Linked DNA regions of Homo sapiens: region 2 is linked to region 1. A link means that fine-mapping ties the variant in region 1 to the expression of a gene that starts in the linked region. Tissue or cell type: whole blood. Region 1 holds a variant in brackets; the other region holds the start of a gene. All regions are shown on one strand. Distances are between the middles of the regions.

Region 1 (2,682 bases):
GCCCAGGCTGTTCTCAAACTCCTGAGCTCAAACAATCTGCCCACCTTAGCCTCCCAAAGTGCTTGGATTATAGGTGTGAGCCACTGCACTGAGCCTGAAAATAAACTTGTTTTAAATGTTGTTTTTAGGACTACGTTGAGTCAGAATAAGGAAGTCATTTGATCAACTGCTAATTGTGCAAGAAATGCCTGACCTAATTTTATCAGATTTAATGTTTGAAAAAAAACCCCAAAAGCAGCCCTTCTGTAAGAACTGCTGAAATGGAAGTTTCTGAACCTAGGTCAGTGGCCTAAATGCTGTATGTGTTTTCTGTGCAAGCAATGCTCTGCAGCCATTTCTGCTTTTAAAGCCAGGACTTCACATAGGCTGAATGTGATTTCTACTCTTTTACTTGTTTATTTGAGCTGCTGATTCACAATGGGGTGGGGTGGGTACCAGTCAGAGCAGCAGCAGTTGCATGGTTGAATGAAAAGAATGTGTATGTGTGAGAGTGTGTCTGTGTGTGTTGGGGGAAGACAGTGAAGTCTTAACTGGCTTTACTCTGAAACTTCCTGGAGAAGAGAGAGTTAGAAAGGACTGGCCGGGCATGGTGGCTCACGCCTGTAATCCCAGCACTTTGGGAGGCCCAGGTGGGTGGATCATTTGAAGTCAGGAGTCCAAGACCAGCCTGGCCAACATGGTGAAACCCTGCCTCTACTAAAAATACAAAAAAATTAGTCTCGGGTACTCAGGAGGCTGAGGCAGGAGAATTGCTTGAACCCGGGAGACAGGTTGGAGTGAGCTGAAATTGCACCACTGCATTCCAGCCTGGGCAATAGAGCGAGACTCCCTGTCAAAAAAAAAAAAAGAAAGAAATGACTTCTAGTTGAGAGAGGAGGCATACAGCTTAAAGTCTGAGGAGAAATGTTCTCCAGCCAGGATCAGGCATACTGGGAGTTCAGAAGTTCCCTTTACTGAAGCTGAGTAATTTCAGGGGAAACCAAAAAAAGTTCCCTTCACTCGTAGTCCAAGGCATAAACTGAGATGGTGGGGGTGGCATGG[G/C]GCAAGGAGGGGTCAATCACCAGGCATCCTGGAGAGAAGTTGGAGTTTATTGGAAAGTTCTGGGTTCCTATCCTGTAGCCTAACCAGAGAGTGTGGCCTAGGCCACATTGACCCTGTACAGGAAAGGGGAGAGTTGAAGTGGGATGTCTCTTCTCACAGGTCCAGCTGGTAGAACACTGAGTAGGACCCTAGGTCCCTAGACTTTCCACTTTGGTGTCTCTGGAGGTGGGTTGTGGAACATATATTTTCACAAGTACCTGGGTGACTCCTGGGCACTGTATATTCATCTCCTAGAATAGGACCTGGTACCTCCTAGACACATGGCTTTCTAGCTTTGGTTCCAGCTGCCCCGAGACTGCAGGCAGTCCAGAAGCATGGGTTCCAGCTAACTATTCTTTAGGAACTGTCCCTTCCCTTGGCTCCTTGCTCCAACCTTGTTCCTCCCCAGCTATTTCTCTCTGCCATCTCATCTGGAAGGATTGTGAATCTATAGGCCTCAGGCCCAGGTCCCCTAATCTTTTTCTTGCCACTTTCCCCACGTGACCTCATCCTCTCCAGTGGCTACTGCTCCCGTGGCTAGACCATTGCCTTTCAACATTCTCTTCTTCTGCGCCTCTTGTAACTGCCTGCCCCAGATACCTCTGTCTGGATGTCTAATGCAGTATAGCTGAATCTGAACACATCCACCTACCCCCAAAACCTGCTCCTCCTGTTGCTGACTTAGTCAAGAATGCCACCTTCCCATCTCAGGATCTCACACACTATACTCCCTGCCTGCTCACCCGCCATCAGCTTATTCTTTAACCAACTGCTTCTTGACTTCTTTTCAGTCTCAATTTTTTTTTTTTCTCTGAGAGGGAGTCTCGCTCTGTCACCCAGGCTAGAGTGCAGTGGTGCAATCTCGGCTCACTGCAAGCTCCGCCCCCCAGGTTCACGCCATTCTCCTGCCTCAGCCTCCCGAGTAGCTGGGACTACAGGTGCTCGCCACCACGCCCAGCTAATTTTTTGTATTTTTAGTGGAGATAGGGTTTCACCGTGTTAGCCAGGATGGTCTCGATCTCCTGACCTTGTCATCCGCCCACCTTGGCCTCCCAAAGTGCTGGGATTACAGGTGTGAGCCACCGCGCCCAGCCACTTTTTCTTTTTGAGATGGAGTCTTGCTCTGTTGCCCAGGCTGGAGTGCAGTGATACCATCTCGGCTCACTGCAACCTCCACCTCCTGGGTTCAAGTGATTCTCCTGCTTCAGACTCTTGAGTAGCTGGGATTACAGGTGCCCGCCACCACGCCCAGCTAATTATCATATTTTTAATAGAGACGTGGTTTCGCCGTGTTGGGCAGGCTCATCTCAAACTCCTGACCTCAAGCCATCAAGCCATCTGCCCACCTTGGCCTCCCAAAGTACTGGGATCACAGGTGTGAGCCACCGCACCCAGCCTCACTGTCACTTTTTCCAGGAGGCATGCATGAGCCTCCCTACTGGGCCTGGTCCTCTTCTTTATTCTTTTTTTTTTTTTTTTTTTTTGAGACGGAGTCTCGCTCTGTCGCCCAGGTCGGACTGCGGACTGCAGTGGCGCAATCTCGGCTCACTGCAAGCTCCGCTTCCCGGGTTCACGCCATTCTCCTGCCTCAGCCTCCCGAGT
Region 2 (2,682 bases), 910 kb before region 1:
CAGTGATTCACACTGTTCCTGAAAGCAAGTTACTTGGTGGAACCTATCCCTCTTTAACAAATGAACAGTCCTGTCTCTTTCCAGGACCAGAGTCCTGCAGCAATTAAGCATGCAACACTTGGGAAGCTATCTGACGGAGACTACCAGTTGCTCCAAAAAATTTTAAACTCCTTAGACATTATAGGCCCTGATAGCACTCTCTTTTTCATTTACTCTTTTCATTTAATGCTTTCACAAATATTCCTAGGACACTCACAGGTGAAGTTTGGCACTGAGCAGGTAAGGCTGAAAGAGTCTTGCTCCTGTTACTCTCCATTGCCAAATTCTCTATTGCGGCTAACTTCTGCACACCACAGCTGCCCAATAAAATCTGTCAGGCACGCAAGCCCACCTCAAATTGCTGCTCCTTTGTGAAGCTTTACCTCTGTTCGCCACCGGTAACTCTTACCTGGCCTTTGTGTGGCCTCCCTTTCAATGTAGAATTCTCGTGTTAGTCTTATGTGCCAGCCTCCTACCCCTCTATCCTGCTAACTTGACTCAACTTGTAGGACAGCGCAGGTGCCATTTACAGGGGGACTTCCTTGACCTCCTGAGCCCTATTCTATACAACCAGAGCTTAGGAAAAAAAAACAGTCCAGCACTCAGAGGAATGGATGTTAACAGCCTGAGCAGCTCCCACCCCCTCCCACACAAGAACAGCTCCAAACATCATTCCTCCTTGGACTTTCCTCCTCCCTGGGCCTACCTCAAATGTACACATGTGAAACATTCACTAAACCCGAAGATGTCTGCACACGACAGCTCTATTCATACTCCTCACCCAACAAATTCCACTCTCCTCAAGAAAGCCTAGGGGTTTGTGGGAGGTGGGTCTGGCGGCAGAAGGAAAGCGAGGTCACGGAGACCACATCCCTGAATGATGCCTGGCTCGACTCAAACGCAACACGCGTGAATGCTAGGGCAGGCTGCTCCTGCGCGGCCCTCCTCCACGGAATGCCAGGGAGGGAGCGCAAAGCCACCAGCGCGGCGGAGCTGGTGCGCCTCCGGCCCGCCTCTCCGGTAACGGGTCGCGCCGCACTGAGTCCTTGCAGCAAACCTGCCGAATCCCGCCCGTGGACCTCTAAACACCGGGCGGGGCCGGGTGTGGCGGCGCGCTCGGACGTTCGTCATTCCTCCGCGCCCTCCGCCTGCCAGCTGATTGGCCCCTGGGCCAGGGGCGGGGCACTCGCGGCGGAGGCAAGCGGCGGCGCGCGGACGGTTGGTCCAGTTCTCCGGCCTGGCGGCAGGCAAGTCTAGCTCGGCGCTGTCGGATACTTGGGGTGAGCGGAAAGCATGGCGGGGACCTCCGCGCCAGGCAGCAAGAGGCGGAGCGAGCCCCCGGCGCCTCGCCCCGGCCCGCCGCCGGGCACCGGGCACCCCCCGAGCAAGCGGGCCCGGGGCTTCTCCGCAGCCGCTGCCCCGGACCCTGACGACCCGTTCGGCGCGCATGGGGACTTCACTGCCGACGACCTGGAGGAGCTTGACACCCTCGCGTCACAGGCCCTGAGCCAATGTCCGGCCGCGGCTCGGGACGTGTCCAGTGAGTGCTCCTCGCGGCCTTTTGCTCGGAGGGAGTTGTCAACCGCGCCAGATCCCCTTGATGGCTGTGGCTTCGGAACCTCGCGGCCAGCACTGCCTTTTCGCCTTTTTAAAATATGGGAACACCCTGATTTAAGCAGCGGTTGTCTTCCAGAAGGTCCTTTGATTTTAGGGGGAAATGCATTAGCCAGGTCAAACAGCCGATTTGAAACACAGAAGGCTAAGTTGACATTTTACGTTATTTTCTAAAGTTTAGGCCACTTGGTTCTTGGTTCTAAGCAGAGATCCTTGGAACACACCTACCACCACCATCAGAACCATCACTACCCATGCATGGGGACCCATTCTTGTGACAAGTTTGAGCGGCTTTAGATCTTATGAAGCCCACTGTCTCCCTTGGGCAGTGTGAGCATGGGAGGAGCCAGACACAGGCAAGAGATGAAATAAATTTATTCTTTTATACAACCAGTAAACTGTGCTAGGTGCCCAAACGTGAGGAACTGCAGCTGACCTTACAATGAACAAAATACAAAAACTGTCCTTCATGGAGCTTACATTCTAGTTGAGGAGTGAGTGAAGTCTTGAGGACTCCCAGAAAGAGAAATGTTTTGAGTGCACCTTGCATCTGTACTTGGGTGTCTCAAGGCACCTTAAACTCAACACGATCATTTCCTGGAAACCCAGTCCTCCTCCAGCACTTCTAGCATGGTGCCGGCAAAGCAGACATTCAGAGAATGATGACCAGATGTTCCACAAGGAAGTAACTAGCACGACTCTCCATCCAGTGGCACAAAGCGACTCTTCCCCTTTCCTTGACTCTACATCTAATTTATTTGGAAAGCATGTCAAGCTTACCTTCTTAATCCTTCTCTGGAGTCTATCCTATTCACATTGCTTCTACCAGCTGCCTGATCTGTGTTACCATGAGTCCTCTCTTGAACAATGGTCTGCTAAATTGGTTTCCCATTTCCAGTCTTGACTCCCTACAAGTGAGGCTTCACATCACATTCTGAGTGATCTTTTCAAAACTCAAATCTGGCTGTGTCTTACACAGATATACGTGAACACCCTTTTTTTTTTTTTTTTTTTTGACGGAGTCTCACT

Evidence for each region. PIP is the estimated chance that this variant, and not a neighbour inherited with it, causes the effect.
Region 2: it holds the start of ATRIP, and the variant in region 1 is fine-mapped to the expression of ATRIP in whole blood (INTERVAL, PIP above 0.99).

The regions. Positions count from the first base shown.
Region 1 is chr3:49,351,484-49,354,165 of GRCh38, forward strand. No RefSeq gene overlaps it. Among named protein-coding and RNA genes, the nearest start is that of GPX1, 5.5 kb to the right of the region's middle. RefSeq lists an enhancer at 977-1,056. The variant G/C (reference allele first, on the strand shown) is at 1,042.
Region 2 is chr3:48,445,514-48,448,195 of GRCh38, forward strand. It overlaps ATRIP (ATR interacting protein), which reads left to right and starts at 1,224. Exons shown (of 13, transcript NM_130384.3): 1 at 1,224-1,579. The coding sequence starts at 1,333. ATRIP-TREX1 (ATRIP-TREX1 readthrough) reads left to right here and starts at 1,266. Exons shown (of 15, transcript NR_153405.1): 1 at 1,266-1,579. It also overlaps a transcript of CCDC51 not described here. RefSeq lists a silencer at 1,169-1,528.